2 linked regions of the Homo sapiens genome follow. Changing the gene in region 2 together with the main gene of any one other region gives a genetic interaction. Each region holds a gene or a part of one and is shown on either strand. Other genes may lie near its edges.

Evidence for each region. Genes that interact genetically often act in the same process or in processes that back each other up.
Region 1: of GNL3 (region 2) and ATG10, changing one suppresses a phenotype caused by changing the other (phenotypic suppression), as found in Homo sapiens cells (one large-scale study listed by BioGRID).

The regions. Positions count from the first base shown.
Region 1 is NC_000005.10:81,974,874-81,978,522, forward strand, and holds part of ATG10 (ubiquitin-like-conjugating enzyme ATG10), read left to right. Parts: intron 1-1,319; exon of another isoform or gene 1,320-1,454; intron 1,455-3,455; exon of another isoform or gene 3,456-3,649. UniProt on the Homo sapiens protein: E2-like enzyme involved in autophagy. Acts as an E2-like enzyme that catalyzes the conjugation of ATG12 to ATG5. ATG12 conjugation to ATG5 is required for autophagy. Likely serves as an ATG5-recognition molecule. Not involved in ATG12 conjugation to ATG3.
Region 2 is NC_000003.12:52,690,315-52,694,997, reverse strand, and holds the end of GNL3 (guanine nucleotide-binding protein-like 3), read right to left. Parts: intron 4,407-4,683; coding exon 4,294-4,406; intron 4,261-4,293; exon of another isoform or gene 4,168-4,260; intron 4,054-4,167; coding exon 3,927-4,053; intron 3,621-3,926; exon of another isoform or gene 3,554-3,620; intron 3,457-3,553; coding exon 3,369-3,456; intron 2,263-3,368; exon of another isoform or gene 2,186-2,262; intron 2,127-2,185; coding exon 1,952-2,126; intron 1,812-1,951; coding exon 1,669-1,811; intron 1,591-1,668; coding exon 1,454-1,590; intron 1,367-1,453; coding exon 1,191-1,366; intron 962-1,190; coding exon 895-961; intron 806-894; coding exon 723-805; 3' UTR 501-722; downstream 1-500. Other genes in the region: GLT8D1 (glycosyltransferase 8 domain-containing protein 1), read left to right, coding at 1-153. UniProt on the Homo sapiens protein: May be required to maintain the proliferative capacity of stem cells. Stabilizes MDM2 by preventing its ubiquitination, and hence proteasomal degradation.

The sequences.
Region 1 (3,649 bases), on a different chromosome or scaffold from region 2:
TCTACCTCATTTCAATCTGTTCCAAGGTTCACTGCCACTGCCCCATCCCTTCTATTTCTTTCTTTCTATATCCTCCTATAATTCAAGGATTAACTGAAATCTAACTACTGTAGGGCCCAGGCTCTGGTTCCAGACTTCCTTAGGTCAAATTACTACACTTAACAGCTGTGTTACCTTGGACAAGTTACCCTCTCTGTCTCAATTTCCTTATCTATAAAATAAAGAAAATCCTAGTAATTTACCTCAAAAAGTTGCTCTGAGGATTTGTTACTAGTTCTTAATACATAGTAATATATGCAATTTTAATTATTTTAATCCATACTAATTCTTTAAACAGTGGTTGTACAATTTATCACTGTTTTTTGTTATCCATTATTCTCTGATGTTCTTTTCAATGTGAATCTTTACTTAAAAATTTGATTACTTTGAGAAGAATGTGTATTCTGAAAAATAAAAAAATATTTGGTTACAAACTATTGAAGGCAAAGACTGTATTATACTTCTTTTTGAAAGTCTCTTAAACCAAGGCTGGGTACAGTGGTTCATGCCTGTGATTCAGCACTTTGGGAGGCTGAGGCAGGCAAATTGCCTGAGCTGAGGAGTTTGAGACCAGCCTTGGCAACATTGCAAAACCCTGTCTCTACAAAAAATACAAAAAATTAGCTGTGCATGGTGGTGCACACATGTGGTCCCAGCTACTCAAGAGGCTGAGGCGGGAGGATTGCTTGAGCCTGGCAGGTGGAGGTTGCAGTCAGCTGAGATGGTATCACTGCCCTCCAACCTGGGTGACATAGTGAGACCCCCCTCTCAAAAAAAAAAAGTGTCTCAGACCTCTCAGGATGATTTGGGGGCTCAGTGTAATATTTTTTTCTTCCCATCTTACTATCTAGTTTTCTTTTTCTTTTTTGTTTTTTATTGTACTTTTGTAGCTTAGAGTTTTAAATTTAAACTCAATTTTGTTCCAAAAGTATTTGAGGTAGCTTAAACTATATAATATATAATAACATACAAAATAAAGAGAATCAAGATCATAAAAATATGAAGCTTGAATAGAAAGATGTGATTAGGGTGAGTTATACTGAAAATATACTGTGAATGTTGTAGAGTTATTTATTTATTTATTTATTTTATCTTTTTTTTTTTTTGAGATGGAGTCTCACTCTGTCGCCCAGGCTGGAGTGCAGTGGCGTGATCTCGGCTCACTGCAGGCTCCGGCCCCCGAGTTCACGCCATTCTCCTGCCTCAGCCTCCCGAGTAGCTGGGAGTACAGGCGCCCGCCACCTTGCCCGGCTAATTTTTTTTTTTTTTTGTATTTTTAGTAGAGACGGGGTTTCACCGTGTTAGCCAAGATGGTCTCGATCTCCTGACCTCGTGATCCGCCCGCCTCGGCCTCCCAAAGTGCTGGGATTACAGGCGTGAGCCACTGCGCCCGGCCTGTTGTACAGTTATTAAAGGTAGGCCACAAAGTTCCAAGCTTCATGGTGGTCAAAGGAAAGAAGGAAACATATTTATTGCCCAGCAAAAACAGCTTCCTGTGTTAAAATAATTAATTGGGAGGCCATTGCCTGAGGAAGCTCCAGTGCCCTGGGTTCCTACATAAACAGACTTACACCAAACTCAGTGTAAATGGTTGTATTCTAGGAAAATGAAACTTTAGCTTAACCAATCAGAAACCATCAACTAACCTCTAACCACTGACTTTTACTGGAATGATCCAAGTAAGGCTACTCCACTTTGACCAATCACAGATTTTCTTGGCCTTGCTTCTGCCGTTCACTCTTCAAAAGCCTTCTAACTGTGTCCTTTTGGTGCAGCCCCATATTGCTTGCATTCTGGAGCTGACCAATTCATTAATATGCCTAGTGTTCCATTATTGGAACGCTAAGCTTGTGGGAGTTATTTATATCCTGCTCATGGTCATCGCCAAGGTCTGATTTTTCACAAAAAAAATTTGCAACCTCCAGCATAAATGGGTTAACCATTGTCTGCTTAAATAAACATTTTCTTGTTTTTGTTTTTTGAGACAGTATCTTGTTGTGTCGCCCAGGCTGGAGGGCAGTAGTGCAGTTATGGCTCACTGCAGCCTCAATTTCCTGGGCTCCAGCTATCCTCCCACCTCAGCCTCCCAAGTAGCTGGGACTACAGGCATGCACCACTATGCCAGGCTAATTTTTGTATTTTTTTGTAGAGGCGGGATCTCACCATTTGCCCAGGCTGGTCTTGAATTCCTGAGCTCAGGCAATCCACCTGCCTTGTCCTCCCGAAGTGCTAGGATTACTTTGCCTGACCTCAAATAAATCCTTTAAAATTTTAATGTGCCTTGGTTTATCTTTTAGCACCTAGTAAATATTTAGTGAGTGAAATGGAGATTGTGATCACAGATTTTAAAGGATACGCTGAGGCCCTAGAGTTAAATTCTCTAGACTTTGTTAATTCCTTACCTACTTCCCAGTATTTCTCAAAGGGAGCTCTACTGGCATTTTTACAGACAACTCTTCACTGTGTGGGATTGTCCTGTACATTGTAGGATGTTTATTTTACCTGGTCCCTCAGCACTAAATGGCAATGGCAAACTCTAACTTCTTTTTAACAATCCAATATGATCCCATTTATTTCCAAGCAGCCCCTTGAAGAGCGGGTTCCCCATAAAGTTGGGAACCATTAGACCTTATTTGCCCATACTCTTCTCCACCCGAGCTATGCTCCATCCACTGACATTTGTTTTATTTTTAAACCTTGCATTCTTTTCAGACCCTGTCTTTGCAGGAGCTCCTCAATCTTTTTGGAGTGACTTTGTCTCCACCTGGTTGGCCCTTACTCAAATTTCAAAATTCATTTCTTCAAGAATTGAATTCATGTGTTCAGAACTCCAAGTTTTGGAGTCTTCCCCAGTTTTGCCAGGAAGTTTGACATTCTTTTCTAGGAGGACACTCACAGCAAGCACTAGGGTATTGTAGGTACTGAGTGAATGAATGAAAAACTTGTGGAAATAGAAGGCACATTAGTCTCATCTCTGAACAAAGACTTTTGCAAGAAGAAAAATTTAAAGGGAATGTGCCTTTCATTACAAAAATGTCCAACCATTTCCTTTTTTTATTTTCCAAAATAAAAATATGGCACTTGGTAGTATATTTTAAAGACACTTTGCTCTGTAATCTGTATTCAGACTGGCACTGATTCTGTAGCTTCTGATATTGTGTTGGTCTTTTTTTTTGAGGCGGAGTCTTGCTCTGTCGCCCAAGCTGGAGTGCAATGGCATGATCTCAGCTCATTGCAACCTCTGCCTCCCAGGTTCATGCAATTCTCCTGCCTCAGCCTCCCAAGTAGCTGGGATTACATGTGCCCGCCACCACGCCCAGCTAATTTTAGTATTTTTAGTAGAGATGGGGTTTCACCATGTTGGTCAGGCTGGTCTCAAACTCCTGACCTCAGGTGATCCATCCACCTTGGCCTCCCAAAATGCTGGGATTACAGGCATGAGCCACTGCTCCTTTCTGTCTCTTCTTATTTTTTGGATACTTTTGGCCAAGGATACCCCATTATCTCCTTATTTCCTAATTCTGGATACTTGGCATATGTGCTGACTAGAGTTTGTTGTACTAGTCCTACTACCCACTGTTCAAAGGCAGCAAGAGAGTTTGAGCTGTGG
Region 2 (4,683 bases):
AAGGCTGCCAAGTTACTCCATTGGAATGGACATTTGAAGCCATGGGGAAGGACTGCTTCATATACTGATGTTTGGGAAAAATGGTATATTCCAGACCCAACAGGCAAATTCAACCTAATCCGAAGATATACCGAGATCTCAAACATAAAGTGAAACAGAATTTGAACTGTAAGCAAGCATTTCTCAGGAAGTCCTGGAAGATAGCATGCGTGGGAAGTAACAGTTGCTAGGCTTCAATGCCTATCGGTAGCAAGCCATGGAAAAAGATGTGTCAGCTAGGTAAAGATGACAAACTGCCCTGTCTGGCAGTCAGCTTCCCAGACAGACTATAGACTATAAATATGTCTCCATCTGCCTTACCAAGTGTTTTCTTACTACAATGCTGAATGACTGGAAAGAAGAACTGATATGGCTAGTTCAGCTAGCTGGTACAGATAATTCAAAACTGCTGTTGGTTTTAATTTTGTAACCTGTGGCCTGATCTGTAAATAAAACTTACATTTTTCAATAGGTATCTTCTTTTTTTATTCCAGATAACTACTTCCACTCACAATGAGATGAATTGTCTTTTTACAGAATTTAGGGATTCCAAGTTGCCTGGTTTTAATATAATACATATTCACAAAATTTACACAGCTCATGCATACCATAACTTATACAGAGAACAGTTTAGCAGTCTGCTTAAAATGTTAAAAAAAAAATCATAAAAAGCCATTGTTCTGTTACACATAATCTGTACTGAAGTCATAAGCATCATCCTCTTCAATGATTTTATCCAAGATAAAAGACCTTGTAGACTGTTCACCTATATTGCAGGAAAATAAAGAGATTTTCAAAAAGTAAAAGTGATTCTATACCATGCTGCTTCGTTAGAACCCCTTTTGCCTGCCTCACCTGCTGTAGTCTCCTCAGACAGTGCCTCCCCTGTCTCTTCTGCAGCAAACATGCCTGAGCTGTTTTCCTGTGTGACAAAGAAAAATAGTGCTGGATTAGTAGCCCTTGTCTGCTCATTTAATCCAAGTAGTTATGTACCTGAAAAATTAACTCTTTGGAGGTACATATAACGGGATGTGCAAAATTAAGGCTAATGGATCACAAGCCTCAAATATTTCCTATCTTCAGTTCCTTCCATTATGTATTATAATGCTAGAAAACTCACTTCAGTTTTAACTCATGGAGGACACACTTACATCAACTTCTTCATCAACAGTTTCCTGGTCACTGTCTTTGTCATCCTCCCTCTCCTCCTGCTTCCTTTCTTTCCGTTTTGGCAATTCTTCATGTATGTCCTTTTCTTCTATTATTCCATTTGTCAGACCGGAAGACTGGAAAAGGATGCTATTGGCCAAATGAGGGCCCTTGATGGCTGGGAAAGAAAGCAAGCCCATGTAAACAGGTAAGAGCTCCACTGGCCTGTCAGCTGATGAAGACAGCAGCGACACACAATTCTCACCTCTTATGCTCTGTGCATTGTTCTTTTCCAGTTCTTCCAGATTGAAGCCGCTTTTCATGTCTACCACAATACTCTCATTAAAATATGGAGGAGGAGTCCAAGATGTAGGGGGATGGCAATAGTAAGCTAATGAGGCACTGATATTAAAAATAAGATGTGTCAAAAGAAGGTTTATTCTAGTGGTCACCAAAATGCCAACAGAAAAGAAAGCTTACCCTGTCCACTCAGACCACAGCAGTTTGGCAGCACCTTCAACATTTGGGATTCCACCTTTTTGGTGCATACCTCTTCTCTGAGCAAGCACAGTAAAAAATTCCAGAGAATTCCTGTAGCCTGGGACAGTATATTTCAGTACTACCTTAAAAAAAAAACCAAACAAAGGAGCTGTCCTTCATCTGACATGCCAGTACTTTAAAACACTTCCAAGATTTTTCTACTCAAAATGCTTATGATGAAAGAAGATGGCTCCAAGGAGCTCATGAGAAGGGGTCCTTTTACCTGTCGAGCATCAGCCTGGGAAAGGATGGCACTGGCAGCCTCCATCGGTTTTACTACTTCAATACTTGCTGGACTTCGCAGAGCAAGCGCAGAGGAGGAATTAAGTGGAGATACGATGAAGCTCGGACTATCTATGATTGTGATCTGTTTGTCCAAGGGGACAACTTGCATGCTCCTGAAAGAAGAGCGATGGAATTGATGGGGGCATTGGTCTATTTGGAGGTTAAGAGACAGAACATGAAGCTCAGGGTTGGATTGAACAGACTCAGCACAGTCAGTCAGATCCAGTTTATCATCATTTGCTTCACATTTATCTAAAACTGTAACAGCATACCCGACTGTTCTAAAGAGAACACTACATGTTATAGCTTATATATTTACATCAACCAAAACACATGCTATTTCCTTTGCTATAAATATGCCACCTTCTGGCTGGGCGCGGTGGCTCACGCCTGTAATCCCAGCACTTTGGGAGGCCGAGGTGGGTGGATCACCTGAGGTCAGGAGTTTGAGACCAGCCTGGCCAACATGATGAAAGCCCTGTCTCTACTAAAAATACAAAAATTAGCCGGGTGCCTTTGATCCCAGCTACTCAGGAGGCTGAGGTTGCAGTGAGCCAAGATAGCACCACTGTACTCCAGCCTGGGAGACAGACTCCATCTCCCAAAAAAAAAAAATCTAAAAGTTGGCCAGGCACAGTGGCTCATGCCACCCAACACAAGTGTAATCCCAACACTTTGTGAGGCCTAGGCGGGTGGATGACTTAAGGCCAGGAGTTTGAGGCTAGCCTGGCCAACAGTGAAACCCCATCTCTATTAAAAATACAAAAACTAGCCAGGTGTGGTGGCAGACTTCTATCTGGCAAATTTCTATTAATTTCTCAAGGCCAGGTTCAAACATCACTTCCTCTGAGGGAGCTTTCCTCTCTCTCAATCTATCTGCTGAACTTGTCTTTCAAACTAAATTGTGGGCAGCTGTCCCACTCCAATCAGTTCTAGCACTGGCTTAAATCTCTGCTTTCACCAAAAGCTTTAAAAAATAAAAATAGGCCGGGCGCGGTGGCTTGGCCTGTAACCCCAGCACTTTGGGAGGCCGAGGCGGGCAGATCAGCTGAAGTCAGGAGTTTGAGACCAGCCTAACCAACATGGAGAAACCCGTCTCTATTAAAAATACAAAATTAGCCGGGCGTGGGGGCACATGCCTGTAATCCCAGCTACTCTGGAGGCTGAGGCAGGAGAATCACTTGAACCTGAGAGGTGGAGGTTGCAGTGAGCCGAGATTGCGCCATTGCCCTCCAGCCTGGGAACAAGAGTGAAACTGTCTCAAAAAAAAAAAAAAAAAAAATCACCTTCCTTGAGATAACCAAAATAAAATAGTGTGTCACTATAATATTACAATTATGGACACCTCCATTTACCTTGTAAGCCCCATGGATACACCAACATTACACATCTGTTCTTGTTTTAAGCTATTGATAATGCTGCTTTTCCCCACATTTGGGAAACCTACAAATAAATGGGAAATCCAGATATAAAAAGCATTATATGTTGGCACTTATGAAATTTTCACTGCCTAATTTTCCATTTCCCTGATGTTTAGGGCAAGATCAGAGTTGGATCTCAGTGTCTTCACTTCAATACTAAGACCAATTTTAGTTTCTTCATTTCTTGCACAAGTAATGCAAAGGCAGGAAAATACTATAAATTCAAACAAACCAAGAACTTTTAGAAACCAGCTTCCTACAGTAATCAGTCCCAACAAAAAACCTGAATCTGGCAGCAGTTGTGTAAGTTTTTTTCTTTAAATTGTGTGTGGTTATGTGCTTTCAGTAAGGTATAAGCAAGAAGCTAGTATTTGAGTGAGCCTTTTACTTGACAACAACTCCATACACTGCTGCTTGGGCACTTGGAGAGCTGGCTAAACTTCTTAACTATTTCAACACTTAAAAAGTAAAAAGTAATGAACTGAAACTCACCAATTACTCCAACCCGAATGGCTTTGCTGCAAGTTTCCTGAAAACCTCCAAGAAGTTTCCAAAGGCCCTCTTTCCCAAAGCAGACTTCACTTCTGAATGGAGCAGCATTCTTCTTTGCCTTCACACGCTAAAATTCCAAATAGTTGAATTATTCTGGCAACTTACCTGATAAATTTCAACAAACCCCAAGCAATCAGGCTCCAGAGCCCAGCTCTTAAGATAACTACATTGCCTTTCAGATGATCTCTGGCTGAAATCAGAGTTGGATCTTGTAATTTTTCATTCACTTAAATCAAGATTTTGTACACTCATCATATTTCAACCAAAATCTGAAAGAATCACATTTCTTACCACTAATAAAGGATACCTTGGTTATCTTCCCTTTATCCTTTGGTTTTGTTGAGGCTCTGAACACCACTGTTGGCAATTCTTTCTTCAAATAATTTAGCCAGCTCTCCAAATTCTCCTTTGGTACCAGATCTGATAGCAATTAGAAATAAGACATTTGCGGCCAGGCACGGTGGCTCACGCCTGTAATCCCAGCACTTTGGGAGGCCGAGACAGGCGGATCACGAGTTCAGGAGATCAAGACCATCCTGGCTAACACGATAAAACCCCGTCTCTACTAAAAATACAAAAAAATTAGCTGGGCGTGGTGGTGGGCACCTGTAGTCCCAGCTACTCGGGAGGCTGAGGCAGGAGAACGGCGTGAACCCGGGAGGTGGAGCTTGCAGTGAGCTGAGATGGCGCCACTGCA